Regions from separate parts of the Homo sapiens genome. Here regions 2, 3 and 4 are each reported to be linked to region 1. The links are microRNA targets in miRTarBase. Many come from high-throughput screens and were not tested one by one. Region 1 holds a microRNA gene; each other region holds the end of a gene's coding sequence.

Evidence for each region. Region 1 holds the annotated microRNA hsa-miR-5007-5p (UAGAGUCUGGCUGAUAUGGUUU, at 3,862-3,883, shown strand). A microRNA usually pairs through its seed, bases 2 to 8, with sites in the 3' UTR of a target mRNA and lowers its output. Matches are read on the target gene's strand: a 7mer-m8 pairs with bases 2 to 8, a 7mer-A1 pairs with bases 2 to 7 and ends in A, and an 8mer does both.
Region 2: the mRNA of CD93 is a reported target of hsa-miR-5007-5p. Seed matches in the 3' UTR shown: 7mer-A1 at 1,491-1,497, 8mer at 3,181-3,188 and 7mer-m8 at 4,097-4,103.
Region 3: the mRNA of ISCA1 is a reported target of hsa-miR-5007-5p. Seed matches in the 3' UTR shown: 7mer-A1 at 5,286-5,292.
Region 4: the mRNA of PIGX is a reported target of hsa-miR-5007-5p. Seed matches in the 3' UTR shown: 7mer-m8 at 2,098-2,104.

Annotation. Positions count from the first base shown.
Region 1 is chr13:55,170,613-55,178,533 of GRCh38, forward strand. MIR5007 (microRNA 5007) reads left to right here and starts at 3,842; the gene lies at 3,842-3,936. The region is part of intron 4 of LINC02335 (long intergenic non-protein coding RNA 2335); the gene reads left to right.
Region 2 is chr20:23,077,289-23,085,209 of GRCh38, reverse strand. CD93 (CD93 molecule) reads left to right here. Exons shown (of 2, transcript NM_012072.4): 1 at 1-951; 2 at 1,236-5,850. The coding sequence ends at 1,260. Among named protein-coding and RNA genes, the nearest start is that of CD93, 5.1 kb to the left of the region's middle.
Region 3 is chr9:86,259,970-86,267,739 of GRCh38, forward strand. It overlaps ISCA1 (iron-sulfur cluster assembly 1), which reads right to left. Exons shown (of 4, transcript NM_030940.4): 4 at 4,577-6,222. The coding sequence ends at 6,074. Among named protein-coding and RNA genes, the nearest start is that of C9orf153, 4.2 kb to the left of the region's middle.
Region 4 is chr3:196,733,186-196,741,106 of GRCh38, forward strand. PIGX (phosphatidylinositol glycan anchor biosynthesis class X) reads left to right here. Exons shown (of 6, transcript NM_017861.4): 6 at 574-2,822. The coding sequence ends at 717. It overlaps PAK2 (p21 (RAC1) activated kinase 2), which reads left to right and starts at 6,672. Exons shown (of 15, transcript NM_002577.4): 1 at 6,672-6,972. RefSeq lists a silencer at 6,463-7,252.

The DNA.
Region 1 (7,921 bases):
AAAAACTAAAAAAATAAGAGATGCTGGTGAGGTTGTAAAGAAAAGGGAATGCTTATAAACTGTTGGGGGCAATGTGAGTTGGGTTAACCATTATGGAAAGCAGTTTGATGATTTCTGAAAGAACTTAAAGCAGAATTACCATTTGATCCAGCAATCCCATGATTGGGTATATACCCAAAGGAATATAAATTATTCTACCAGAAGGAAACATGGATGTGAATGTTCATCAGAGCACTATTCACAATTGCAAAGACATGGAATCAACCTAAATGCCCATCGGTGGTAGAATGGATAAGGAAAATAGGATACATATACCACGGAATACTATGCAGACATGAAAAGGAACAAGACCATGTCCTTTGCAGCAACGTGGATAAAGCTGGAGGCCATTAACTTAAGTGAACTAATGCAAGAACAGAAAACCAAATACCACGTGTCTCTCTTATATAGCAGGAATATGCATTGAGTGCACAGGGACACAAAGAAGAGAACAATAGACATCAGAGCCTACTTGAGAGTAGAGGGTTGGAGGAGGGTGATGATTGAAAAATTACCTATTAAGTACTGTACTTATTACCAGGATGATGAAATACATCATTGAACACTTGATAAACTCCTACTGATATGGCTAATGCTTTTCTTCTCCATACTGTAAAGATCCTCAGAAGTCAGTTGCTTTTACCTAGCTGTGCTAACAGTAAACCTTCAGAGCCTTGTTTCAGGGTTGTATCATTTTTTTTTCTTCTAGATATGATCTGATTTGCAGAGAGTTTGATCATCATGACATTCCACAAAGCCCCAGTCTTGTCCACTACATTGATGACATTGAGTTTATTGAATCTGATGTGTAAGAGGTAGCAATTACTATGACATAGTTTCGTAAGGTAAATTCTAGCCAGAATCTGGGCAGTAATTCCACAAAAATGCATGGATCCACCTCTTCATTAAAGTTTCGTGGTTTCAAATGTCTGGAATATGTCTATACTTGCCTCGAAGGTAGCAAATATATTTTTTCATTTTGCACTGTCACAAAAAAAATGTAAAAGCTCAATGCATGGCAGGGTTTTCAAGATTTTGGAGACAACATACCACAGTTGAGAGTGCTTCTTCAGCATATTTACCAAATCATATATTAAGGCTGCCTATATCTTTGAGAGCTATATAGTAAGAGGTGACTTTTCAATAAATACAGGCCAAAGTACAAGATGCTCTTCTCCATGGCCTAATGATTCAGTAAATCCATTGATATTCAAAGTATCTGTGGTAAATAGAGATGCTTTATAGGCCATTCTGATAGACACTAATAGAAGAACCACAAGGACAACTTCTAGGATTTTGGAGTAAATCAATGTTCTCTTCTGAAAGTAAATTTCCTACTTCTTGAGAATTAGCTTCTGACTTACTATTAGCCCTTAGAAGAGAACAAACTGAAGATGACATCAGGTGACCATACAGTCTGCATTTTCCAAGTCAAACGCATCTATTAATAAAGTTGGATATGTGCAGCACCAATCTATCATTGAGTAAAAATGATATGTAAGAAAATGAGTTTGGGCAGGGCTAGGGGATAGAGTGTCTTTTGACACTGCTTCTTTCTGCATTGCTTCCCTTCCAACCATTCACACCTACGGCTTTATGGGAGTTTCATTCAACTAGTTGACTAGAAATAAAACACTTCAGTCTGTTTTACAGTTTGTTCTTCAGGATATGCTGGTATTGCCAATGCAGTTTCTATTTCCTTAATAGTTATTAATTGATACTTATTCTTAAGGAACAGATTATATAAGCAACCTTGATTCCGTAATTTTCTAACATACTATTCTTGGTTTTATTTCTGTCATATAAACTATGTATTTTTCCAACAGCTTAAAGCCAAGTTTATCTTTTAATTTCTCTATAAGTTTCAATCACATTAATCCAATTGTCAACATTGTATCAGTTAATTCTTTTAGGTTATTATTTTTATAAGGTCTTCCACAAATTTAAAAGCATGAATATTTTGCTTTTTTTAAAAAAAATAAACTTAAATTATTCTGTTTTTGACTTATTGTAATGCCTGAGTATAGTATTGAGAAAAATATTACTTACTTTTTCTTTAATTTATTTGGAATCATTCCAATATTTTATTATAAACATTAGATTTCTACTGCTTATCCTTTGCATGCAAACATACAAAGTCTAGGGGATTTTTTAGCCACTTTTTGCCACTTAACAACAACAAAAACAAAACAAAGAAATCTTAGTGCTTTTCTTTTTTTCATACAATTGTATATAGCTACAATTTTTTAATGTTCTACCACTTAGTAGGTTAAAATAAATTTATAGAAAAATAAATGGGAGATCAAATATTCATACTTTAACATAAGAACTATCAAGATACTAGAAGGCAAGAGTGATCTTATACATAAATAAGAGTTATATTCCACAAATCATAAAGGAAATATTGATATATTTAACAACATTTTAAAGGGGCTACACTTACATCATAAACAAAGTAAATGAAGAAATAAATAATGGGGAAATGGGATTTTTAACTTATAAGACAACTTTGTGATTAATTTTATATTCTAAATGTATAAAAATGCCATACAAATCAATACCAATGGAGTAAAGAAGCTTAAAATATAATAAAGTCAGACCTAAAAAACTATACAAATTGCTTATAAAGATGTAATAATATTTAGAATCACTTGTCAGATACATATGAAGTAAAATATGCAATTTTACACTGAGATTGGATTGGAAAATCTCTATTTTTTGTATTATATAGTTTTGTAAGCTATTGCATGGGAAATAAGATTTCTCATTTAACTAGATAATATAAATTAGAGGAGAACTTTGCAATCATTATTTGTTTTAAATATTACATGTTCTTGCAGATAATAAATAATCACTTAGGAATTTTGCCTACAATTTTGCATCTCAATAGAAAGCTATAAGAACACAGATATTCTTGATGCATTATTGGTAAAAGCAGAAGAGTGGTGGAAAACAATTGTATACCCACATTTAATGCAAACATAATAAATTTATGACTTATCTCATTATGTTATTTCCCAATTGGATTTTTTCATAAGTTTCTTCTGATAAACACAAAGGATACCAGGAATTGACTCTATATTACTGCTGTCCAATAGATCGTTCAATAAGGAAGAAAATCTTGTTTATTTGTGCTTTCCAATATGGTAGCCACAAGCCACATGAAGCTATTGAGTACTTAAAATTGACTATTTCTACTGAGATATAATTTTTTGTTTTAGAGATGGGGGTCTCAAATTCTTGCCTCAATCTCCTGAGTTGCTGAGACTCAGGATTCCTTCATGCCAGCTCAGGAATTAAATTTACCTATTAATCAATATAAAGTAAAAGTGGATAACCACATCGGGCTCAAGAATATCTTATTGGGCAGTGCAGTTTGAGGTAAATGTTGCTTCTTTAGCCAGTGTATTAGTTCATTCTCACATTGCTATAAAAAAATGCCTGAGACTGGGTAATTTATTAAAAAAAAGAGATTTAATTGGCTTATGGTTGTGAAGGTTGTATGTAGGAAGTATGACAGCATCTGCTTGGTTTCTAGGGAGTCCTTAGGAAATTTACAACCATGGTGGGTGGCAAACAAGGAGTCAGCACTTCACATGGCTGAAGCAGAAGGAAGAGAGAGAGGGGAGTGGTGCCACACACTTTTAAAACAACCAGACTTTGTGATAACTGACTCACTATCAGAGAACGGCACTGAGGCAGTGGTGCCTAACCATTTTTGAGAACTCTACCCTCATGATCCAGTCACTTCCCAATGGACACCCCTCTCTAAGACTGGGGATTACAATTTGACATGAGATTTGGTAAACCTTGGTGACTAATTAGAGTCTGGCTGATATGGTTTGACACAGAGCTAAATCATATGAACCAAACTCTAATTAGTCAATAATTTCTGTTAAAAATTATCCCTCAAATATCTTCCAAATCAGCCTTCTCTTTCTTATACTGATGAATGCTTCTTTTAATTAAATTTTTATTTTTTTCACCTGTATTACTGTACCATCTTTCTAAATGAACTCTTGTCATTTAAAACCAACCCTAAATTCATCTCCTGAGATGTCTGTAAAATGTAGATCTTCGTCACTTCTATATTTGCAAACTTTCAGCTCCCCCAAGTTGTTAATATTTTGGCCCCAGATTCTCCCTTTAGCCTCACATGGCTGCCAAATCTTCAAAACTCATTTACCTTCCAGACATAAAGCTTCTTCTAAAATTCTCTTTATAAAACATCATGCATTTTCATGTTTCCAAAGTTTTGCACATTTGTATTCATCTTTCTGGAATGCTTTCCTCAATGTTTTCACTTTTGTTTCTTCATTTATTCTTCAAAGACTAAGCTCACTTGTAACCTGCTGATAATTAACTATCCCCAGTTCTACAAGCATATTTGTTAGGGATGTCTCTTCACTGTTTATATAATATCCAGTCTTACTACCCCAGTGATAACTAATGATTCGACGAATAAATATGGTCAAAACTAAAAGCTCAGTAGCCAAGAACTAACAACGTAGAATAAATATTCTTCAATGTAAAAGGCAGAGTAGGAGAGAATCCCTGAAAATGGCAAGAATTGCTAGACATTAAATAAGACAGTAAATTTGATGGTTTGAGTTATTTTTTTCTTGTGATCGTCTTATTTTCACAGCCTATCAACATTTCTTCTTAGAAAAAAAGTAATGTTAGGATAAAAAATTTTAAGTAGGAGTGATTATAGCTATTGGGGACATAATTAATGAGATACCCCTCTTCTACTAGTCTATCTTTGAGTCATGCCTTTCTACTTATAATAGTAAGCTGACATCAGCTATAATAGGGAAATTATCTTCTCTCCTGGTTCCGCTAGTGTCTGTAGAAAAGATGCAAAATTTCACCTACTATAGACATATCCCAAAGACATACCCAATGCCGCCTACATGTTTCTCTAAAAACCCATCTTTTACTCATTGTCACTACATTTCCAGTCCACCTACCAAGTCTGCATTAACTAATTAAACAAACAAGCACTGTTTGAGAGTCTACAGAATTACAAGAAACCTAAGCATTCACAATGTTTCTAGTTCATCAGGAAGCTCAGATTTTGATCTATCTTTGGTTGTTAATTTTTCTGTCACTCCAATCATATTATTTGTTCTGTTGTAGTGCATCTATTGCAGGTCCCATTGAAACTCAAGTATGGCTTATCACACTGATCTTCAAACCCAATGCATATATCAGTAATCATACAAATAATAATAATGTTGACACATTACATTTATTACATATTTACTATGTGTAATTTACTATTCTGAGCACTCCTTTACGTTATGTGGTTTGGAGATTTATAGTACTCACTAGTAACTTACTCAAGGGATATTGAAAGAGTCATACTGAGTAAATGCTATTAAGTATTCTATGATACCAGAAACAACCTTAGTATTGCAACCTTTCAAATATAAACATATGTGAGTCAATCTGAGCTGTGGGTGGACACACTCTAGTGTAACCCCCAGGAAGTCACCTATTGTATAATACCATACCCTTGAATGTGGGCAAAACTGGAACTTGCATTTAATGGAATATGACAAAACGTGCTGGGGTATCTCTGCAGTGATTAGATTACAATACACTTATAAGACTTCATTTTAATAAATTGTTGTATAGCTCTTCTCTTGCTGACCTTAAAGAACAAAACAGAGAGGTTGTGAAAATTTCTACAGAAAGGGCTTCATGGCAGGGAAGTGCAGGCAGCCTCTTGGACATGAGCATGTACTTGGAATCCTAACCTATGGAAACTGAAAAAATGAATAGGTATTGTTTTAAGTCACTAAGTTTGTGACAATTTGTTGTGTAGAAATAGAAAATTAATGTAAGGGCTATCCTAAAAGGAAAAAGAATTTAACTTTGGGCCTTTTAACATATTCAGTCTCTTTAATAAAAGGTGGCTGGTTTTACTGTTACAAATTCTCAAATGTATATTTTCACAATTTGTAAGTATATTGATAATTATGTATTATACATTTAGACTCTCAATGAATTTTAATCAAACTGAAAATGTTTTCTCACTTCCCTTCAATAATAAATAGTTGTTTATTTGAAAATGTCTTCTACCATGTCTTAATTTACAGTACCATCAAATATATAATTGAAGGGTAAGAAAATTCTTAAATTATACAATATTAACCAACACATCCCATTTAACAGAACATGGCAATAATGTTTATCTCTTTTTGTTTAATTTAAAAAGTGTTTGTGAGAAGATGGCATAATGGAGAGCAATGAAATTACTCAGAAAGTGGTTTCTGTGAGACTTTAGTTTATGTTAACATCTTATTTTTCCCTCAGGTGTCAAAGATGTAATGTTAATATTAAAATTCTCATTGTCTTAAAGTTTCCTGAATAATAAACATTCAGGATGGAAACAAGTTGGAAAAGACAAACCACACTCCTTAATAATATATAATCTATAATAGGGAGCAGCTTAGTCATTGGCTTAAATTAAATATTCATTCATTGATAAAATATTTCTGTTCCTATTTATATCATAAAATAATCAATACTCTTTAAAATTTTTCTTAATGTGTGATATGGTTTGACTGTGTCCCCACCCAAATCTCATCTTGAATTGTAGTTCCCATAATCCCCACATATCATGGAGGAACCCAATGTTAGGTAATTGAATCATGGAGGCAGTTACCCCCATACTGTTCTCATGATAGGAAGTTCTCATGAGATCTGATGGTTTTCTTAGGGGCTTTTCCCCCTTTGGCTCAGCACTTCTCCTTCCTGCTATCATATGAAGAACATGTGTGCTTCCTCTTCCATCATAATTGTAAGTTTCCCAAGGCCTCCCAAGCCATGTGGAACTGTGAGTCAATTAAACCTCTTTTCTTTATGAATTACCCAGTATTGGGTATGTCTTTATTAGCAGCACGAGAACAGACTAATATAGTAAATTGGTAACACAGAGAGTGGGTGCTGTTATAAGGATGATTGAAAATGTGGAAGCAGTTTTGGAACTGGACAATAGACAGAGGTTGAAATAGTTTGGAGGAATCAGAAGAAGACAAGAAAATGTGGGAAAATTTGGAATGTCCAAGAGACATGGAGGTCTCAGAAGACAGGAAGATGTGGGAAAGTTTGGAACTTCCTAGAGACTTGTTGAATGGCTTTGACCAAAATGCTGATAGTGATAAAGACAATGAAGTCTAGGTTTAAGGGGTTTCAGATGGAGATGACAAACTTGTTGGGAACTGAAGTAAAGGCTACCTTGCTATATTCTAGCAAAGATACTGGTGGCAGTTTGCCTCTGCCCTACAGGTCTGCAAAACTTTAAACTTGAGAGAGATGATTTAGGGTATCTGTTGGAATAAATTTTAAGCAGCAAAGCATTCAAGAGGAAGCAGACCATAAAAGTTTGGAAAATTTGCCACCTGATGATGCAACAGATAAGAAAAACTCATTTTCTGGGAAGAAATTCAAGACTGCTTCAGAAATTTGCATAAATAACAGGGAGCCAAATGTAAATCACCAAGACAATGGTGAAAATGTCTCCAGGGCATATCAGAGACCCTTCCTGGCAGCACCTCCCATCACAGGCTTAGAGGCCTAGGAGAAAAAAATGGTTCTGTGGTCTGGGTCCAGGACCCCTGCTCTGTGCAGCCTCGGGACATAGTGTCCTGCATCCCAGCTGCTTTAGCTCCAGCTGTGGCTAAATCGGGCCAAGATACAACTCAAGCCATTGCTTCAGAGGGTGCAAGCCCCAAGCCTTCGTGGTTTCCATGTGATGTTGAGCCTACTGGTGCACAGAAGTCAAGAATTAATGTTTGGGAACATCCACCTGGATTTCAGAGGATGTATGGAAACACCTGGATGTCCAGGCAAAAGTTTGCTGCAGGGGTAGAGC
Region 2 (7,921 bases), not on the chromosome of region 1:
CCGCTGCCCCCAAGGGTACCAGCTGGACTCGAGTCAGCTGGACTGTGTGGACGTGGATGAATGCCAGGACTCCCCCTGTGCCCAGGAGTGTGTCAACACCCCTGGGGGCTTCCGCTGCGAATGCTGGGTTGGCTATGAGCCGGGCGGTCCTGGAGAGGGGGCCTGTCAGGATGTGGATGAGTGTGCTCTGGGTCGCTCGCCTTGCGCCCAGGGCTGCACCAACACAGATGGCTCATTTCACTGCTCCTGTGAGGAGGGCTACGTCCTGGCCGGGGAGGACGGGACTCAGTGCCAGGACGTGGATGAGTGTGTGGGCCCGGGGGGCCCCCTCTGCGACAGCTTGTGCTTCAACACACAAGGGTCCTTCCACTGTGGCTGCCTGCCAGGCTGGGTGCTGGCCCCAAATGGGGTCTCTTGCACCATGGGGCCTGTGTCTCTGGGACCACCATCTGGGCCCCCCGATGAGGAGGACAAAGGAGAGAAAGAAGGGAGCACCGTGCCCCGTGCTGCAACAGCCAGTCCCACAAGGGGCCCCGAGGGCACCCCCAAGGCTACACCCACCACAAGTAGACCTTCGCTGTCATCTGACGCCCCCATCACATCTGCCCCACTCAAGATGCTGGCCCCCAGTGGGTCCCCAGGCGTCTGGAGGGAGCCCAGCATCCATCACGCCACAGCTGCCTCTGGCCCCCAGGAGCCTGCAGGTGGGGACTCCTCCGTGGCCACACAAAACAACGATGGCACTGACGGGCAAAAGCTGCTTTTATTCTACATCCTAGGCACCGTGGTGGCCATCCTACTCCTGCTGGCCCTGGCTCTGGGGCTACTGGTCTATCGCAAGCGGAGAGCGAAGAGGGAGGAGAAGAAGGAGAAGAAGCCCCAGAATGCGGCAGACAGTTACTCCTGGGTTCCAGAGCGAGCTGAGAGCAGGGCCATGGAGAACCAGTACAGGTAAAGGGGGCCCTGAGTGACCGGGGGAGGGGATGGGCAGGCATGGGGGCACTGACTACAGTACAAAGAGGTGGCAGCAAGAGCAGGCCCAGGTTTCCTGTGGGCAGACACACCCTGGTCCTTGCAGCTGACCCCTCAACCTCCCCCCACGCCAGGCACTCGGGCCCCCTTAGAGCATACTGCCCATCTGCAGCACGGCCGCACGTGGGGCTCTCTCCCAAGGTGGGGACGTGCAGGCACAGAGGCGCCATGGCTTCCAACGCTGTCTGTTTTGTTTCCCATAGTCCGACACCTGGGACAGACTGCTGAAAGTGAGGTGGCCCTAGAGACACTAGAGTCACCAGCCACCATCCTCAGAGCTTTGAACTCCCCATTCCAAAGGGGCACCCACATTTTTTTGAAAGACTGGACTGGAATCTTAGCAAACAATTGTAAGTCTCCTCCTTAAAGGCCCCTTGGAACATGCAGGTATTTTCTACGGGTGTTTGATGTTCCTGAAGTGGAAGCTGTGTGTTGGCGTGCCACGGTGGGGATTTCGTGACTCTATAATGATTGTTACTCCCCCTCCCTTTTCAAATTCCAATGTGACCAATTCCGGATCAGGGTGTGAGGAGGCCGGGGCTAAGGGGCTCCCCTGAATATCTTCTCTGCTCACTTCCACCATCTAAGAGGAAAAGGTGAGTTGCTCATGCTGATTAGGATTGAAATGATTTGTTTCTCTTCCTAGGATGAAAACTAAATCAATTAATTATTCAATTAGGTAAGAAGATCTGGTTTTTTGGTCAAAGGGAACATGTTCGGACTGGAAACATTTCTTTACATTTGCATTCCTCCATTTCGCCAGCACAAGTCTTGCTAAATGTGATACTGTTGACATCCTCCAGAATGGCCAGAAGTGCAATTAACCTCTTAGGTGGCAAGGAGGCAGGAAGTGCCTCTTTAGTTCTTACATTTCTAATAGCCTTGGGTTTATTTGCAAAGGAAGCTTGAAAAATATGAGAAAAGTTGCTTGAAGTGCATTACAGGTGTTTGTGAAGTCACATAATCTACGGGGCTAGGGCGAGAGAGGCCAGGGATTTGTTCACAGATACTTGAATTAATTCATCCAAATGTACTGAGGTTACCACACACTTGACTACGGATGTGATCAACACTAACAAGGAAACAAATTCAAGGACAACCTGTCTTTGAGCCAGGGCAGGCCTCAGACACCCTGCCTGTGGCCCCGCCTCCACTTCATCCTGCCCGGAATGCCAGTGCTCCGAGCTCAGACAGAGGAAGCCCTGCAGAAAGTTCCATCAGGCTGTTTCCTAAAGGATGTGTGAACGGGAGATGATGCACTGTGTTTTGAAAGTTGTCATTTTAAAGCATTTTAGCACAGTTCATAGTCCACAGTTGATGCAGCATCCTGAGATTTTAAATCCTGAAGTGTGGGTGGCGCACACACCAAGTAGGGAGCTAGTCAGGCAGTTTGCTTAAGGAACTTTTGTTCTCTGTCTCTTTTCCTTAAAATTGGGGGTAAGGAGGGAAGGAAGAGGGAAAGAGATGACTAACTAAAATCATTTTTACAGCAAAAACTGCTCAAAGCCATTTAAATTATATCCTCATTTTAAAAGTTACATTTGCAAATATTTCTCCCTATGATAATGTAGTCGATAGTGTGCACTCTTTCTCTCTCTCTCTCTCTCTCACACACACACACACACACACACACACACACACAGAGACACGGCACCATTCTGCCTGGGGCACTGGAACACATTCCTGGGGGTCACCGATGGTCAGAGTCACTAGAAGTTACCTGAGTATCTCTGGGAGGCCTCATGTCTCCTGTGGGCTTTTTACCACCACTGTGCAGGAGAACAGACAGAGGAAATGTGTCTCCCTCCAAGGCCCCAAAGCCTCAGAGAAAGGGTGTTTCTGGTTTTGCCTTAGCAATGCATCGGTCTCTGAGGTGACACTCTGGAGTGGTTGAAGGGCCACAAGGTGCAGGGTTAATACTCTTGCCAGTTTTGAAATATAGATGCTATGGTTCAGATTGTTTTTAATAGAAAACTAAAGGGGCAGGGGAAGTGAAAGGAAAGATGGAGGTTTTGTGCGGCTCGATGGGGCATTTGGAACTTCTTTTTAAAGTCATCTCATGGTCTCCAGTTTTCAGTTGGAACTCTGGTGTTTAACACTTAAGGGAGACAAAGGCTGTGTCCATTTGGCAAAACTTCCTTGGCCACGAGACTCTAGGTGATGTGTGAAGCTGGGCAGTCTGTGGTGTGGAGAGCAGCCATCTGTCTGGCCATTCAGAGGATTCTAAAGACATGGCTGGATGCGCTGCTGACCAACATCAGCACTTAAATAAATGCAAATGCAACATTTCTCCCTCTGGGCCTTGAAAATCCTTGCCCTTATCATTTGGGGTGAAGGAGACATTTCTGTCCTTGGCTTCCCACAGCCCCAACGCAGTCTGTGTATGATTCCTGGGATCCAACGAGCCCTCCTATTTTCACAGTGTTCTGATTGCTCTCACAGCCCAGGCCCATCGTCTGTTCTCTGAATGCAGCCCTGTTCTCAACAACAGGGAGGTCATGGAACCCCTCTGTGGAACCCACAAGGGGAGAAATGGGTGATAAAGAATCCAGTTCCTCAAAACCTTCCCTGGCAGGCTGGGTCCCTCTCCTGCTGGGTGGTGCTTTCTCTTGCACACCACTCCCACCACGGGGGGAGAGCCAGCAACCCAACCAGACAGCTCAGGTTGTGCATCTGATGGAAACCACTGGGCTCAAACACGTGCTTTATTCTCCTGTTTATTTTTGCTGTTACTTTGAAGCATGGAAATTCTTGTTTGGGGGATCTTGGGGCTACAGTAGTGGGTAAACAAATGCCCACCGGCCAAGAGGCCATTAACAAATCGTCCTTGTCCTGAGGGGCCCCAGCTTGCTCGGGCGTGGCACAGTGGGGAATCCAAGGGTCACAGTATGGGGAGAGGTGCACCCTGCCACCTGCTAACTTCTCGCTAGACACAGTGTTTCTGCCCAGGTGACCTGTTCAGCAGCAGAACAAGCCAGGGCCATGGGGACGGGGGAAGTTTTCACTTGGAGATGGACACCAAGACAATGAAGATTTGTTGTCCAAATAGGTCAATAATTCTGGGAGACTCTTGGAAAAAACTGAATATATTCAGGACCAACTCTCTCCCTCCCCTCATCCCACATCTCAAAGCAGACAATGTAAAGAGAGAACATCTCACACACCCAGCTCGCCATGCCTACTCATTCCTGAATTTCAGGTGCCATCACTGCTCTTTCTTTCTTCTTTGTCATTTGAGAAAGGATGCAGGAGGACAATTCCCACAGATAATCTGAGGAATGCAGAAAAACCAGGGCAGGACAGTTATCGACAATGCATTAGAACTTGGTGAGCATCCTCTGTAGAGGGACTCCACCCCTGCTCAACAGCTTGGCTTCCAGGCAAGACCAACCACATCTGGTCTCTGCCTTCGGTGGCCCACACACCTAAGCGTCATCGTCATTGCCATAGCATCATGATGCAACACATCTACGTGTAGCACTACGACGTTATGTTTGGGTAATGTGGGGATGAACTGCATGAGGCTCTGATTAAGGATGTGGGGAAGTGGGCTGCGGTCACTGTCGGCCTTGCAAGGCCACCTGGAGGCCTGTCTGTTAGCCAGTGGTGGAGGAGCAAGGCTTCAGGAAGGGCCAGCCACATGCCATCTTCCCTGCGATCAGGCAAAAAAGTGGAATTAAAAAGTCAAACCTTTATATGCATGTGTTATGTCCATTTTGCAGGATGAACTGAGTTTAAAAGAATTTTTTTTTCTCTTCAAGTTGCTTTGTCTTTTCCATCCTCATCACAAGCCCTTGTTTGAGTGTCTTATCCCTGAGCAATCTTTCGATGGATGGAGATGATCATTAGGTACTTTTGTTTCAACCTTTATTCCTGTAAATATTTCTGTGAAAACTAGGAGAACAGAGATGAGATTTGACAAAAAAAAATTGAATTAAAAATAACACAGTCTTTTTAAAACTAACATAGGAAAGCCTTTCCTATTATTTCTCTTCTTAGCTTCTCCATTGTCTAAATCAGGAAAACAGGAAAACACAGCTTTCTAGCAGCTGCAAAATGGTTTAATGCCCCCTACATATTTCCATCACCTTGAACAATAGCTTTAGCTTGGGAATCTGAGATATGATCCCAGAAAACATCTGTCTCTACTTCGGCTGCAAAACCCATGGTTTAAATCTATATGGTTTGTGCATTTTCTCAACTAAAAATAGAGATGATAATCCGAATTCTCCATATATTCACTAATCAAAGACACTATTTTCATACTAGATTCCTGAGACAAATACTCACTGAAGGGCTTGTTTAAAAATAAATTGTGTTTTGGTCTGTTCTTGTAGATAATGCCCTTCTATTTTAGGTAGAAGCTCTGGAATCCCTTTATTGTGCTGTTGCTCTTATCTGCAAGGTGGCAAGCAGTTCTTTTCAGCAGATTTTGCCCACTATTCCTCTGAGCTGAAGTTCTTTGCATAGATTTGGCTTAAGCTTGAATTAGATCCCTGCAAAGGCTTGCTCTGTGATGTCAGATGTAATTGTAAATGTCAGTAATCACTTCATGAATGCTAAATGAGAATGTAAGTATTTTTAAATGTGTGTATTTCAAATTTGTTTGACTAATTCTGGAATTACAAGATTTCTATGCAGGATTTACCTTCATCCTGTGCATGTTTCCCAAACTGTGAGGAGGGAAGGCTCAGAGATCGAGCTTCTCCTCTGAGTTCTAACAAAATGGTGCTTTGAGGGTCAGCCTTTAGGAAGGTGCAGCTTTGTTGTCCTTTGAGCTTTCTGTTATGTGCCTATCCTAATAAACTCTTAAACACATTGATTGTGAACTTGTTTTAATATATTTCACGACAACTCGAAATACCTGGCAGAACTTGCTTTCAAGGTCATTACATTTATCCATCTCCCCTTTCAAAGAGTTGCTAAAAAGAAGGTACCTTGTGGCTGAGTTTCTGCACCTGCACCTGCTGGAGGCGACAGGGGGCGCTGGGCTCTGCCTTCCTTCATTACCTCAGCAAATGTGTACCCTGCCCCTCAGCGTGCTGCCCTTGGGGACATGGAATACAGAGGGCTGGGCTGCACTGCGCCCAGTGTCCATGGCAGCTGAGTCCACTCATCCATGGCCCCCTCATCACTCTTTAATTCTCTGCATCTTGTAAATTACATGGGTGATGCCTGGCGCAGAATTAAACATGTCCAATGGATGCGATGTGAAAACACTGTTCTATAATTATCATTGGAGCATTTATCACTACTTTGTCAGCAAAGCCCTTTCAGTTTATTTAACTAATTGGACAGGCAGATCAGATCGCTGGTTGTTTGGCTGCACAAATCTCATGGTGATTCCAAGTCAGGAACAGCAGATGGTGGTCAATTCTGAGTCAGCCTGCTTTTAAGATTGTGCAAAAGGCTGTGGCAAAGGCACAGGACTTAAGAAGAACAAAGGGTTCTGCTCTGTTATGCTAATGGTACAGGACACTTGCAATAAATATCCATTATTTAGGGTTAAATGCAGCTGATCCTGTTAGAAGTCTATTCATTAACAACATACACTTGGAAATTATTCCTCGATATGAACAACCATGGCTGTTCCCCCAACACACACACCCACACACATAAACACACACATGCATGACACAGAGATATGCATCCACAAACACACACAACACACACCCACAAGACACACACCCACAAGCACACACAGTTCTAACATCCTTCTGTGTCGTACTGGAACACCTGAGGCCAGTGTTTCTCAATTTAGGAAAAGCCTATGAAAGAAAACACCAACTTGTGATGGTTACATTTTTTGGTGACTTTTGCTATCTCACTAAAATTTCTTAAATGCTAGGTAAATCATTCGCAAACAAATAATTTGCCAAGAAAAATTAATTTGCACACATATCTATTGCACAATGCAGAGTACATTTGTGTTGCTATCATCAGACAAAATGCAGATTACAATGAGAGACTCAGACATGTACTATGTACCTTCTGTGGGATTGAACATGCATTGAGTGAGCCTATCAAGTTCTCAGCTGACTCTTGTGTATATTCAGCAAGAGGAGATACAGAGAGCAGAGATGATAAACTTGAAAACCAGAGAAGTCGGAGTCAGCCTTTCCCTGAATTATATTTGACATTACAGGTGCTTAGAAACAGAATGACTAATGGGTTTACCCTTCAGATCCTCTGAATGCCTCCTAACTCTCCCTTTTCAGAGGAAATTATGAACAGCTCAACAGTGAAAAAGTGAAGAAAGAGGCAGAGAGAGTAAAAGGTATAGATCAAGTGCAATCATTTTTCCGGAACTGTGATTGACTTAAGGGTGCTCAGCATGCAGCTCAGGCACAGGCCCTCTCCTGAGTCCCCAGGAGAACCACCACCAAACTCTCCATGAGCGGTTGTCCCTCTCTGAGTTCTGGTAGTTGGGTTCTATTTGAGGTTTGTCGTGATTAACTTGGATGATGATGTTCTCTTGTGGTTAAAATTGGTTCATAGAATTCAACTGAGTGGAAGAAAGGATGGAAGGGAGGAAAAGAGGAAGGGAGGAAGGGAGGGAGAGGGAGGAAGGGAGGGAGAGGGAGGAGGGAGGGAGAGGGAGGGAGGGAGGGAGGAAAGAAGGGAATGAATGGGAAGGAATGAATGGTAGGGAGGGAATGAATAAATGGGAAAGAGAAGGAAGGAGAGATGAGGGAGAGAAGAGAGAGAGAGAACACAAAAGGGGGTAGAGGAATGTCCCAGGTGTGGTGGTCACAATCAGGTCTCACAAAGCTGGGCTTGGAGCCTGAGAAGGAAGGGCTGAGTTTCTCAGGGCGTGCCGGTGCGAATTTCAGGCCACTTCGTTCTGCTGGCCTTGGTGAGGCCCAGCACCCTCCTGTCACCTTCCTGC
Region 3 (7,770 bases), not on the chromosome of region 1:
TAATTTTTTTTTTTTTTTGAGATGGAGTCTCACTCTGTCGCCCAGGCTGGAGTGCAGTGGCACGATCTCAGCTCACTGCAAGCTCCGCCTCCCGGGTTCACGCCATTCTCCTGCCTCAGCCTCTTGAGTAGCTGGGACTACAGGTGCCGTGAATGTAATTTTTAATCAGTCAAGTTTTTCCTTCTATAGACATGGGCAAAGTGCAAATAAGAAATTGAGAGAGATAATAGAAGGTACAGCTATGCTCTTTGCACCTGGCCAGATATGGGTAGAAGTGGACCAGGGGCTACCTGGCTGTGCAAATTCTCTCCATGAGCCATGCAGCCGTGCTCCAGACTCCATTCCCCACCCATGGGAGGTCCCTGTGGCAATCACTGAAAATTTTCCTGAAACAGCCATTTCCCCAGAATGCAATCTACTGGGCATTTAAATAGTCTGATTGAGTTAATAACTTGTGAACACCGTGGCAACATATCCATAACATGAAGCTTACCGTGTTAAGCCGTTTTAGGTACACAGTTCTGTGGCATTCAGTACATTCACATTGTTGTGCCACCTGCACTGCCTTCCATCTCCAGAGCTTTTTCATCTTTTCCACCTGAATCTGTGTCCATGAAATAAATTTCTCACCCCCTGTCCCCTGTCAATGGACACCTGGGTTGTTCCTACCTTTTGGCTATTGTGAATAATGCTGTTATGAACATGGATATACAAGAAAGTTAATAATTTTAAGCAGAATTTAATAAATACAGAAGATTCTTCCAATGAGAAAATATTTCAAAAGCCTGCCATTCAAAGGTGTTCTGCAGAGCAACAGCACTGGCTTCACTTGGGCCTTTGCTACTAATGCAGAATCTCAGGCTCTGCCCTGGACCTTTGTTACAGAATCTGCTTTTTTTTTTTTTTTGAGACAGTTTTGCTCTGTCACCCAGGCTGGAATGCAGTGGTGCCATCTCATGTCACTGCAACCTCCCCACCTCCCAGGTTCAAGTGATTCTCCTGCCTCAGCCTCCTGAGTAGCTGGGACTAGAGGCGCCCACCACTATGTCTGGCTAATTTTTGTGTATTTTTAGTAGAGATGGGGTTTCACCATGTTGGCCAGGCTGGTCTCGAACTCCTGACCTCAAGTGATCCACTCGCCTCAGCCTCCCAAAGTGCTGGATTACAGGCGTGAGCTACCTACTGCGCCCGGCCAAGAATCTGCTTTTTAACAAGACCCCCAGGTGACTTATTTGCACCTTAAAGTTTGAGGACTGCTTCAAGACATAGAATCCATGGAGAACAAAAAATGAGTACTTTATTTTTTATTCTTTTTTTTTTTGAGACAGGGTCTTGCTCTGTCATCCAGGCTGGAGTGCAGTAGTACGATCTTGGCTCACTGCAACCTCTACCTCCTGGGCTAAAGTGATCCTCTCACCTTGGTCTCCTGAGCAACGGGGACTACAGGCATGTACCACCATGACCAGCTAATTTTTGTATTTTTTGTAGAGACGGCGTTTTACCACGTTGCCCAGGCTGGTCTTGAACTCCTGGGATCAGGTGATCTGCCCACTTTTGCCTCCCAAAGTGCTGGGATTACAGGCTTGAGCCAACACACCTGGCCCAATAAATGGGCACTTCATCATGAAAAGTTTCGGAATCACTAGCTAGTGGAAGTAAAAGCAGTAACCCATCAAGGCCCTCAAAGTAGGCTAGTTTTAAGCTGAGTACCGCTGGTACAGAGCCCTTGCCCCGCTAAAGGTTGGTGTGAAATGAAGCCTTCCCTGAACACTGCACAGCAGCAAGGGAGGATGGGAGTCCACAGTGATGTAACCACCACATGGCTCTGTATTTCAATAGAGGCTGAGGCTAGGGTGCACCTCCCTCTCTCCTCCATCTCTTGTCTGATGAGACCCACCTGGGACCAGGAGATTGAGTTCCTACTGGGGAATGAGCTTTCAAAACAGCTCCTCAATTAAGGCAGGTTTGTCTATAGTTAATCAGCTACTAAGAGAATGAAATTTCTCCGAATGTTTATATTTGAAATTTATGGTTCTTTTCAAAGAAGTTACTGTGGTCTTTTATTTGAAGGAAATACAGCAAATTTCCCCCAGATTTGAATATGGGACAATAACTCCCTAAATGTGTTGAAACTCTTTCCCTAAGCTCTTGCTTTGATTGATAATCCATTAACATATTATCCCTTTTTGCACAAGAAAATGGCTAAAAGGGACAAGAATTACAACGTATGAAACGTCTACCCTTAGCAGGATGCCATTTATGTGTAGTTAGCTCATCACATCCCCCCAAATTCTGAGACTGTTTTACAGAAGGTTACATGGCTACAAAATGACAGGAACCATGATTCAAATCCAGGCATATCTCACCCCAAACCTACACCTTTCCAGGCCAGCCTCCCAGCCTGCACTGAGCTCAGGTGAGCTGTATTTGGGTTTATTCTGGGTCGATGCTGTGTCTGGCCCATGCCACGTCTGCTCTAAGGCTCAAATGAGACACTGATGTTGCTTACAGCTCAGCTTAGCACAGGCTTTTCCATTTCCTGATTTCTCAGGTATCAAAACATGACAAGAAAGGCCATTTTTTTTTTGAGGTATTTCCTGCTGAGTGAAACCTAGGAAATACTGGAAATCTTAGGGACATCTGATCTTGTAGGGATTGTTCCCAACCCTTTCCTGTTTGAGAAAAAAAAAATCATTCTGGTGGGTCCGGTGACAGAGGGCTGGGAGGCGCCCTGCAACAATGAAGCACAGCAGGCCTCTGTCCTCATGGCCTGATTCATTCAATTTAGCATCCTGATGTGGAAGAGTGGGCTTATAACTGATCATGAAAAGCCTGAAGTCTGCTGCTAAGCGACAGATCTGCTGGCCTACACATCACCCAGGGGCACTACCAAATCGCCTAACACAATGACCAGTGTTTGTGAGTAGAATGTGGATGAATGTGGTGCAACAGACAGAACCTTCCTGGTGAGGGCTAAGGCTTGCATGACATGGTGTGACATGGCCGTAGGATGGAGCCATTTTGCAAAAATAATTCTGACCTGCCCGATGCTAAACGAACACTGAAGAAGCAATTGCGTTCCTGTCTCCAAGATCCTTTCAATATTGTACAAGAGACAAGAACCAAAACCAATGAACAGTACAAGTACTGCCTGTACAAATAGAAATGAGTCACAGAACACTGGCTGATGAGGTTGGGCTACGGATAGAGTACCATCCTTTCTGCCTCCTAAGCCTTTCTCTCACGGGTCCCTGCTCAGGTCCTATTATAGCGGGCTTTGCAGTAGCTTCTTCCTGTCCTCATCAGCCAGCCTAGTCCAGGCCATGGAAACACTTCCAAATGCAATTTTCTAATGAGTGCCCCTAAACACTTTCAGTGGCCCCAAGGCCTACAGAACTTGCAGAAAGCCCAAACGCCCCAGGCATCTACCTTGCCCTCCAGCCTTACTGCTCCTCTCCGGGCCTCATTCTCCGGAGTGCTTAGCTTCACTGTGTTTTTATTATTACTTTTTATTATACTTTAAGTTCTAGGGTACATGTGCACAACGTGCAGGTTTGTTACTTATGTATACATGTGCCGTGTTGGTGTGCTGCACCCATTAACTCGTCATTTACATTAGGTATATCTCCTAATGCTATCCCTCCCCCACGACAGGCCCTGGTGTGTGATGTTCCCTGCCCTGTGTCCAAGTGTTCTCATTGTTCAATTCCCACCTATGAGTGAGAACACGCCCTCTGTGTTTTTTCAACCCTCTTTAGTACTGTTCACTGTCTTCCCTCTTCCCCAAATCTCTTTCAACTAGGCGCAGGGGTCATAACCTGTAGGCTACCTTTTTAGAAGCGCACTCCGTTGGTTCTATCAGGACACGCAGTATGGCCTAACAGCTGGGAGCACAGCATCTGGAGCCATAGACACAGGGTACGATTCTGACTTGGCCACCTTAGCTATTTTATTTAAGCTGTGTTTTGGTTTATCTATGAAAAAGACAGTAGTCAGACCTGCATTCTCGATTGCTGAGATGATGTTTATTAGAACACTTCCTGGCATGCAGTGAGCATGCCATCACCACCAGCTGCTCACAACACTTACCATGGTGATCGATGCTCTTCGCTGGTGTCTCATTTGCCGACTTGAAGCTCTCTGAGGTTGGGACTGTCTTTGATGACCTGTGAAAGCTCAGGGCTAGTGGAGAGTCAGTGCTCACTACTGTGCCTGAGTGAACAGCTGAGAACCTTCTTGGAGGAGGTTCACATAAAAGCTCAGATGACAGAGGGAAAAGCACTCCAGGTAGTGATAATGCTCTCGTCCTAAGGACATGAGGAACCTGCTTGGGGGATGGATGACCCTCATGGGGAACAAGGAGGAAAAAGAGGCTAGCAAAGCCAGGGAGATGAGAGACACCTGAGATGGTCTCTCCAGGGCTGTGTGGAGAATCAGCAGCTAGGACTCTGGACGAAACAGTGTCAGGTAGGGAGGACGCCTGGTGACAGGCAGCCTAGGCAAAAAAGACAGTCATTTTTTTATTGGCTTTAGCAGCTGCTGTCCCAAACCCTCTCCCCTCAATAATAAAAGGCAATTTTATGATCACAAAGAGGCCACATTTTTTTTAATTGACAACTCAATCTCTACATACATACAGTGTTGCACGAATTATAAGTGGATCAACAATTATATTATTGATACAAACTCATGAGCATTTACATAAAACTACCGCTCTAGGTTTTGGTGTGTTTTGTGTCAGCTACTTTAGTGAATAAACGAAACATAAAGGAACTCAGCTACTTGAATTCATGAGAATCAGCTTTCAAAAAAAGCATATATATCATCTCATAGAATACTTATGTCAAACCCAGGAAAATCAGTAACTAAGTGACAAAAGGAACACTTTTAAAGAAAAGTTGGTGATAAATATGTTAGGCTAAAATACTAAGAACTTTAGCAACTGGACCGAGGAACCAGAAAATGTATGCACACTGGGAATTTTAACAAAAGATTACACATTCTCCTGTACAGTGAGGACCACATTCCAAAAGCATAATTCTGGGTTGCTACAATGTCATCTCTGCTACAAACCATTGTTTCAAAGGTGAAAGAAACAAGATGGTAATTGACATAAAAAGGTTTTAAAATTCTTCCCACTCAAAATAAAATAAAAATAATATAATCTCTATCAAATTATAAAGAAATTCTATCAAAATGTTGACCACATAAAGAAGTCAGACCATTTGCCTTCGCTGACTGCCTCAGAGGGCAGAGCATGTGTCACCTACAAGGGGAGAGGGGGGTAGAGTCCCTACTCTCCCCCGGCCTGTGGTGTCAGGGTGGACAGGAGCCCTTTGGCTTCCCTGGGGTTTTGCTTCCTCACATAGGGAATTGATGGAGGTGGGCTAGATGGCTTTAAGAGACTTCTCAACTAAAAGAATCAAAGTCAGCTTGAGAGCCCATCTCTGAACAGACATATAGGGTGGCAAAAGAAATGGATTAAAAAAAGGCGGATGACGTCTTTCTCACCTTTTGATACCATCACTCAGAACTAATCTGTACTATAGTTGAAGAAAATCTTTGCCTGGTACTATTAAAGAGTATGCAGTGAGGCAGCTGACAATGAAATTTTTCATAAAAATGTATAAAAAGGCTATGTTAAGTTTGGGTGGAAAAAACAATGCACCACCATATTACTACCAGCAGTCACGATGTCCTGTCTCAGATTTTAGGAGTCACCGATCTGGTTGGGAGAAATGCTGAGGGATGATCAAGCCATCAATAGCGATCTAAGGAGTGCACACAGTTCAGGAAATGGATAAACAGGTGCCCAGGAAGGCAACTTTAATGAAACTGGTTCTAAAACAAAGGATACAAGAGACCTAAATGATCCAAAAAGAGTGATGGCTTCTCATTTTCTGTCCCCTATAGAGAATATAAATATCATTTCTTCTGGAATCCAACACACTGGATTCATTTTCAAGATGTATCACTTTATTTTCCAGCACGTGACAGTCACATGATTTCTGCAGTGAGCCCCAAAGCTTCCACGAGCTTTCCTGGAACCTACGGCCAGAAGAGTCCTGAGATTTCAAATATTAAAGCTTTCTCCACAGCCACAAGTCCCTTTGATGTTTGGGTTATTGAACACAAACTCACTGGATAATTTGTCTTCAACATAGTCCATTTCTGTTCCTAAAAGTGTTAGCTGTGCTTTCTTTTCGATGAATACTCTGACTCCTTGGAGAAAAGAAAACATGTGTCATGGAAAGCCTGCAGCCTTATGGAACTTGCTGATTCAAAGCACAAGTGAACTTGAAATAGTGACTATCAATGAAAGTCAAACAAGAAGCCTTGAACATTTTAAATTATTTCCTTAAGGAATTAAGCATTCAGTTTCCTGTCTGCCCCTTCTTTCCCACACATGAATTTATGTCACAATCACATTAGGGGAGAATTTTATACAAGTAAATTCCATGACAATTTTATGCAAAATTAGAATTTACCTTTCACTATACTTCACTCATTTTTCCAGTTTGCAACATGAAGAAAATGTATATTCTCGATGAGTTTTATGAAATAAAAAAAAATTTATGAAAATTCTGCAATACACTAGATACACGGATTCAAGCTTAAAGATGTACAAAGGACTGTGATACAATGGGGCTATTTTAATAACATCAATCAGTACAACAATAGTCTTTTCTGGTTACAGGACGGAAAACAGGTACTATTCCCTAGTAATTACACAGGTAGAGGTCAGCATCTTTGTAAATACAATCTTTTTTTTTTTGGACAGAGTCTCACTCTGTCACCCCGGCTGGAGTGCAGTGGTATGATCATGGCTCACCACAAGCTCCACCTCCCAGGCTCAAGCGATCCTCCCACAGGATTACAGGCACATACCACCAGGACCAACTAATTTTTTTAGAGTCAGGGTTTCACCACGTGGCCCAAGCTGGTCTTGCATTCCTGGGCTCAAGTGATCCTCCCACCTCGGCCTCCCAAAGTGCTGGGATTACAGGTGTGAGCCACAGTGCCCAGCCAACAAATACAATCAATTTAAGAAAGCTTTCTAGTCTGGGAAACAGGGCAAAACCCTGGCTCCACTAAAAATACAAAAATTAGCCGGGCACAGTGGTGGGCACCTGTAGTCCCAGCTACTCGGGAGGCTGAGGTGGGAGGACTGCTTGAGCCCGGGAGACAGAGGCTACAGTGAACCATGATTGTGCCACTGCACTCCAGCCTGGGTAAGAGAGCAAGACTCTGTCTCAACAAACAAACAAAACAACGAAACAACAAAAAAACTTTCTTCCTTACAAGAAATTGAGCCATTAGCTAAATATAAACAATATATAATTAAGTCACCTCTTCTTTAAGATGAAAATCTTAAGGTTTATAATGTGTTATAATTTTTAAAATAATACATTTTTAAAAGGTCTTTATTGATAGTTATAACTTTAGTTTAATAAGAAAGCACACTTAGGAATCTAGGCCTCATTCTCCCATGTAGGTAAGAACTGCAAGCTAAGTGCATACTTCCAATGACAAGATAAATTATTTATTTTAGATAGGTTTTAACAGATTATAGGGTGGAAGAAGGGGGCAGCAGCAAATATAATTAATTTTAATTATAAATTAAATTATAATAAATAGCTTTGAATAAAAATTGGAAATACAGGATTCCTCAAAAACATGAGTTGATAATACAGCTCCACTAAAAATACAAAAATGAACCAGGCATGGTGGTGGGCGCCTATAATCCCAGCTACTTGGGAGGCTGAGGTG
Region 4 (7,921 bases), not on the chromosome of region 1:
AAATCAGAACTAATGAGATTTAACAAATTATTGTGGGAATTGAGTCTGATTCTGTAACATTAAATGAAATGTTAGATTCAAAAGTCATTCAAACCAATAATATTACATGTAGTGTAGCACTGGCTGAAATATATTTAAAAGAAAAAGGAAATAAAAATATCCAATTAAAAATCAAAGAAATAGTGGTCTCACCTTATGACATTTATTTTATTTTACTATTTTTATTTATTTATTTATTTATTTGAGACAGAGTCTTCCTCTGTCTCCCAGGCTGGAGTACAGTGGCACGATCTCAGCTCACTGCAAACCTCCGCCTCCCGGGTTCAAGTGATTGTTCTGTCTTAGCCTCCCTAGTAGCTGGGACTACAGGCACCTGCCACCACACCTGGCTAATTTTTGTATTTTTAGTAGAGATGGTTTAGTAGAGATGTTGGCCAGGCTGGTTTTGAACTCCTGACCTCAAGCGATCTGCCCGCCTTGGCCTCCCGAAGTGCTGGGATTACAGGCATGAGCTACCACACCGGGCCCATGACATGCATTTTCAATGTCTAACTTCTCTCTCTCTCTCCATAGGTATATAAGAATGTGATTCTACAAGTTCCAGTGGGACTGACTGTACATACCTCTCTAGTATGTTCTGTGACTCTGCTCATTACAATCCTGTGCTCTACATTGATCCTTGTAGCAGTTTTCAAATATGGCCATTTTTCCCTATAAGTTTTATGTAGTTAAATGCTTCCTAGAAACCTAAATAAGATCTATTAATTTCTGACGAGAGGTGTTCTTCTAGAATTAATTACTTTTATCTTTTGTCTTCATTTGTGGCCAAAATTATGTTTACTAGAGGAAATTTGGGATCATTCTCAGCTAATTCCAAAATGTAGTGCTCTATTGCATGGATCCTTGGTAATCCTCAAGCATCAGATGCCATAAGGGGAAACTTAATTCTGCTAAATTAATGTTTATTTTGTGAGAAGTGACTTTATCTTCATTTGGGGTAGAAAAATTATTTCTTTATGTAGTAGAGACAAATTATTCTCATTTTGCAAGTACTTTCAATTTAAGCTACAAATTGAGAAAACCGTTATAAATAAGAATAAAATAGGCCAGGCACAGTGGCTCACACCTGTAATCCCAGCACTTTGGGAGGCCGAGGTGGGCGGATCACCAGAGGTCAAGAGTTTGAGACCAGCTTGGTGAAACCCTGTCTCTACTAAAAATACAAAAGTTAGCTGGGGCTGGTGGTGGGCATCTGTAGTCCCAGCTAATTGGAAGGGTGAGGCGGGAGGATCGCTTGAACCTGGGAGGCGGAGGTTCCAGAGAGCCAAGATCGCACCACTGCACTACAGCCTGGGCGACAGAACGAGACCCTGTCTCCAAAGGAAAAACAAAAAAGAAGAATAAAATAATTTGGATGAAAATCATGTTTATTTAAATAGTAATGTCATGAGACTATTAAAGATGTGCCAGAGTTTCAATGAAAATCATTAAAGTAGGACAGCTAAGAAATTAATATTAATATCAAAATTATTGATAATCTTAAATTATTGATTATTCCTTAACGCACTCCATTCTCCTTTTACATTTTATCATGTTTCTTTTGAATATATGAATTGGCAAAGGACTTGATGAAACTGAGTACTAAGATTTGGTACAGAGTATGTCAGGAAGACAACTCAGATTGCCATTTTAAATAAAGTTGTACATGAACAATAATTGGAATCATCAGGTAATTTTTTTAAACAAAGGTTCTTCATTTACTGTTATGATTGGAAAAAAATTAGAAAATAAAGTAAGTGCCATAGGCTAATTAAAAAATAAAACCTTGGCCGGGCGCGGTGGCTTACGCCTATAATCCCAGCACTTTGGGAGGCCGAGACGGGCAGATCACGAGGTCAGGAGATTGAGACCATCCTGGCTAACACGGTGAAACCCCATCTCTACTAAAAATACAAAAAAATGAGCCGGGTATGGTGGTGCATACCTGTAGTCCCAGCTACTCGGGAGGCTGAGGCAGGAGAATGGCATGAACCCGGAAGGCAGAGCTTGCAGTGAGCCGAGATCACGCCACTGCACTCCAGCCTGGGCGACAGAGTGAGACTCTGTCTCAAAAAAAAAAAAAAAAAAAAAAAAAAAAAAGTAAATAAAACCTTAGGGCAAGCATGTTCCAAAACAGAAGACATCAAACCAGGGTGTGTTGGCATTATTTATTTTATGTAGAGTATTGAGATGTGATAAACCTTTGTATATGCCATCACTGCTCCATTTCCTAAAGTATTTTGGTGTTTTCATGGGACTACATCTTGTATAATTTGACATGTATGACCTGACTAGTCCTAACAGTTCTTTTTAAACGTGTATTTGAGACTTAAATATTGGAAAAGGTAACCCAGTGCCATAAAGCAGAAACAGTGACCTTTAAAATGACTAAAATTTCAACCCAGTATAGTTTCATACCTATTTCATGCTTTCTCGTAAGAAAGAATTTCATGTTTTAGAAACATTTCTTTCACTATGGGATTAATAATATGACACTGAAATGGAATTATATATGTCAGCTACAATTCAGGCATTGTTTTGGGATATGGTTAGATTGACAGGCAACGTTTTGGAATATGGTTAGACGGGGAGGGAACACGGTACTGTTTAACATCTTAAGAGTATGTGGGGGTATGTGTATACAGAATGTTTTTGTTTTTGCTCATCACAACCAGGTTTCATCAGTATTTAAAATATTTAAGATTGTGGCTTGGAATGTGGTTCAGCCATTTACTCACTTATACAAATATTCAGAAGTGTAATAAAAATGTGAATGAAGAAAACTTTGATATAACTCTTCTTGCTTAGATAAATGGTTGCAGATGACATCACTTTTAGTATAACAGAACATTTCTGGTTTTGTTTGTATTATCTTGTAAACATGGCCAACATGGTGAAACCCCATCTCTACTAAAAATACAAAAAATTAGCCGGGAGTGGTGGCATGCGGCTGTAATCCCAGCTACTCGGGAGGCCGAGGCAGGAGAATCACTTGAACCCGGGAGGCAGAGGTTGCAGTGAGCCGAGATCGTACCACTGCACCCCAGCCTGGGCGACAGAGTGAGACTCCGTCACAAAAAAAAAAAAAAAAGGGAAAGAAAAAGAAAGAAATATACCTTTTAAGGAGTTCCTTTAGTGTGTCTCTGTTGGTAGCTTGTTTATGTTTGATGATATATTTATTTCATCCTCACTCATCTGATGGATAATTTAGGTAGTTGTACACTTTTTTTTTTTTTTTTTTTTTTGAGACAGAGTCTTGCTCTGTCGTCCAGGCTGGAGTGCAGTGGTGTGATCCCTGCTCACTGCAACCTCTGCTTCCTGGGTTCAAGTGATTCTCCTGCCTCAGCCTACCAAGTAGCTGGGACTACAGGCGCACACCACCACACCCTGCTATTTTTTATATTTTTAGCAGAGACAGGGTTTTGCCGTTGTTGGCCAGGCTGGTCTTGAACTCCTGATCTCAGGTGATCTGCCCACCTCAGCCTCCTAAAGTGCTGGGATTACAGGTGTGAGCCACTGTGCCCAGCCGGTAGCTGTACACTTCTAAGCTTGGTTATTTTCTCTTGGTACTTTGAAAATATACCATTATTGACTGGCACCCGTTTTGCTGTTGTGAAATCTGCTATGAATGTAATAGTTGTTTGTACAGAATGTCTTTTCTCTCTGGTTGCTTTATCTCTGGTATTCTGCGGTTTCATTTTCATGTGTTTGAAATTTCTTTACTTATCCTGCTTGGTATTCAGTTTGCTTCCTGAATCTGAAGATTCCTGTCTTTAATCAATTCTGGAAATTTTTCAGCCATTATCTCATCATTATCTGCCTCTCTTGGTTTTTCTCTTTTCTCTCCTGGAATTCTCATTAGGAGTATGGTAGAGACCTTAACAATCTATCCCCATGTCTCTTAAGCTTGCTTTCATTTTTCCTGTCTCTAGGCTGTTCTCAGTAATTTCTTTTGGTCTGTCTTCCAGTTTACTAATTTTCTCTTCAATTGTGTGTAATCTGCTATTTAACCAAACATTGGCTTTGGTTTCAGTTATTCTTTGTTTCTAGAAATTCTACTTAATTCTTTTGTTGTTGTTGTTTTTGTTTTGAGACGGAGTTTTGCTCTTGTTGCCCAGGCTGGAGTGCAATGGCATGTTCTTGGCTTACTGCAACCTCCACCTCCCAGGTTCAAGTGATTCTCCTGCCTCAGCCTCCTGAGTAGGTGGGACTACAGGTGCCCACCACCACGCCTGGCTAATTTTTGCATTTTTAGTAGAGACTGGGGTTTCACCATGTTGGCCAGGCTGGTCTCGAACTCCTGACCTCGGGTGATCTGCCCACCTCGGCCTCCCAAACTGCTGGGATTACAGGTGTGAGCCACCGCGCCTGGCCTACTTATTTCATTTTCAAAGCTGTTTGGTCGTTAAAAAAAAAAAGCATCTTGTTTCTTGCTCGTGTTTTCTAGCTCCTGTCTTACTTTCTTTAATCATTTAAATAGGCGTACTGTATATTCTGTAGCCATCAATTCCAGCAGCTAAAGTCTGTGTGGGTTTCATTATGTTCTTTGTAGTTTCTATTGACTCACTCATCGCTGCTTATTTCCTCAGGTGTATTGTATTTCGGGTGCTCATGTTTGGCTTCGGAAATCCTGTTTATCTGTGAAATCCTTTGAGACCGAGGTTGAGGGTACACCTGTGCAGTCAGGATTTGTATTTGTTTCTTCCAGGCCCCCCAGAACTCCAGCCTGGGACCACTTTCTTGACAAATTTGAACTTTAAAACCTTAGTGAGGGAAAATTCTAAAGGGTTATTAATTCTAAAGGGAAAATTTTCTTCTGCCCTGCAAGCCCACTGCAGGCCAAAGTAAACAAATGTCCTGTGTGTCTCCCTGGGCTAGCATAGGGTTTTTTTTCCCCCCAGTCTGTTCTTGGAGGGTATAGCGCCTTGAATTTCCAGTCCTATGCAGGATCACAGTCCTGACTTCTTGTATAGGCCCAAGTCCTTGTCTTTAGTTTCCTGTGCACCTATTAAAACTCTAGAGATTTCTGAGATAAGTAGGTGCCCTCAACACAACCATGGCTTCACTGCCCTGCTTACCACTCTGGTGTCCTGCCCCTTCTTCAGGTTGAGTGTGAAATTTGGAAGACTGTCAGAAACATTCTATTTTCATTCTTGCAAGTTATGCCTTTGAAAGGATGTCTTATTTATCCAGTGTTTCTGTGTGTTTAATAATCAGAGCATTTTTCAGGTTATCTCTTACTGTGCCATGTTGCTCCTTGATTCCTTTCTCTCCTGTACCCACTGCATCAATTGAGTTTTTTGCTCTACATTGATAGAGAAGCACAATTCCTCTTTCTTTCCACTGCCTTCCTACTTTATTTCCCTTCTATTCTTGCATCTCTATACTCCATTATCCACATTGCAGTCTAGTGATCTTAAAGTGTAAGCCAGGTAACATCGCTTTCCTGCTTAAAAAAGCCTTTTAATGGTTTTTTGTAATATAGACTTTTTACCATGGCATTCAGGATCTTTCATGACCTGAATCTTGTCTGCTGTAGTGTTTTCTTAATAGTACCGCCTTCTTGTTCTAGGCCCCAGCTACACAGGCCTTCTTAACTGACCGTAGCAAGCCCTTTTCTTTCTTCTCCTGCCTGTATTGCTTTTCTCTGGGTGCTTCTTATTGCTGTCTCTTTCTGTTCTTGCCTTAAGTGTCACCTCCTTAACGAGGCCTTCTCCGACCACCCTATCCAAAGTAACCTCGCCAAGTTTTTTCTTATACCAGGTGTGACTACTTTAATTACTGCGTCCTCATATAAGCTCCACAAAGGCTTGGTGAATCGTGTTCACCCTTGCATTTCTTTTGTGTTTTTTGTTTTGTTTTTGAGGCATGACGACTCTGTCACGCTGAAGTGCAGTGGCCCGATCTTGGCTCACTGCAGCCTCCTCCTCCTGGGTTCAAGCGATTCTCCTGCCTTAGTCTCCCGAGTAGCTGGGACTACAGATGCGTGCCACCATGCCCAGCTAATTTTTGTATTTTTAGTAGAAACGGGGTTTCATCGTGTTGGCCAGGCTGGTCTCGAACTCCCGACCTCAGGTGATCCGCCTGCCTCAGCCTCCCAAAGTGCTGGGATTACAGGCGTGAGCCACCGCACCTGAACCACCCTTGTATTTCTGATGCTTAACAGTGTCTAGTCCATATCAGACACTCAAATATTTGTAGAATAAGTGAAACATTGATGAACTCCTCCGTGGATAAAATAGGGAAGTCTTAATTTGCAAGGAGGTGATACTTAATTTAGCAGCAAAATTTTAGTTAAGAATTTGTAAGCAAAAAAGCAAAATGGATAACGGATGAATTCCCAGAAACAAATGTCGCGGAGCAGATGTGTATAACAGCAATCGTCTGTCAGCGTCTTCCGTCGGCAGAGACCTGCTTGGAGACAATGCTGAATTAAATGAGGGACTGGCTGCTCCTCTCAATACAAAGACTACCCAAGGAATAAAAGCAACGTCTATCACCGAACTACTACTCCCAGCGGCCCCCGCGCGGGCCTGCCCATGGGAGGTGGCGCTCGTCTCCGCCCCGGGGAGCTCCGGCTTCGGGGCGGGAGGGGTTCTGGGTTCTGGCCCCGCCCCGCCCCGCTCCCCGCCGTCTTCCTCCCCCAGGGTTGTGGCCACGCGCAGCGGCGGCGGTTGTTCCGCTTCCCCTCCGGCCCGGGCCGTCGCCATTGCCGAAGGCTCCCTCCCCTCCCCTCCCTGGCGTGCGCAGGACTCCGCCGCCGCTGGGCCTAGCGGTAGCAGCGGCTGCTCCAGCGCGGCGTCTCTTCCCGCCCCGCTTCCCCTTCCCTCCCCTCCCCTCCCCGCACCGCGCGCTAGCCCGGGGCGGCTCCGCAGCCCGCCGGGAGCTCTGACCGAGGCGCCTCGCTGGGGCGGGGACCTTGCCTTGCCCGGGGTAAGTGCACACAGGCCGGCCGGCGCGGGACGCAGGCCGGGTCTCTTCCTCCTCCTTCCTTCTCCGTGGCCTGGCGGGCGGGAGCGGCCCGGGACGGCCGACCTGCCCCGCGCGGGGCCGGGGAGCCGCCACCTGCGTGCTGGGAGCCGCAGCTCCTGGGGCGGTGGCTCATTGTCTGCTCCCCAGGGCCGTTTTCTTCGCTGGCTTTAGCCAGAAATGGGAAGCTCGCTGGGCTGCGGAGGTCTGACTCTTCCTGGACCCAGCCCTGCTCTGAACCTCGCGGCACCACGGTCTCTGCCGACTCTCGGTCTTCCCTCCCCTCGCGTTTCACCCTCTTCCTTTGCTCCGTTTTCTTAATGCTGGACCAGACTCTCCGGTTTTGTTCCTTGATTTTTCCTCTCACTGATTCTCAGCCCCTGCTTGCTCGCTCTCTGTTCACCCGTTTCACTGCTCAGGAATATTGTCGCGAGTAGCTTGACTGTTTTCTCAGCTCCAGCCTGTAACCTCTTTTCCACATTCCACATTGGTAAAAACGTAGAGCGTCCCGGGCGCTTGAGGGCCACCGCTTACGAACTGATCTTTCGGAGCTTCTCCTCGCTCCTGTTTGAGCTTCAGCCTAGGGGTGAAATTTGCTTCTTTAGATAACTTAGGTGAAGTTAAGATTGGTTTTTCACCATGTTTGGCTCTCTTGGAAACACACGCACGCACAAACACAAAACGTTGCCACTCAACCTTTTAACTAATTCTTTAAAGATAAGTCATCCAAGAACAGAAGCGTGTCATCGTCAGTGGGTGTGAGGTTGTACCCATCCTTGTATCTTAATTTTAGTAGTACTCTCCCTGGGCAGTGTGAGCGTGATTTGTTGTCCCTTGATAAATAACGAACTCCGGTTGATATCATTATCTCACTTCTGCGTTACAGGCGATGTGTCCTTTCTTTGTTTTCTTT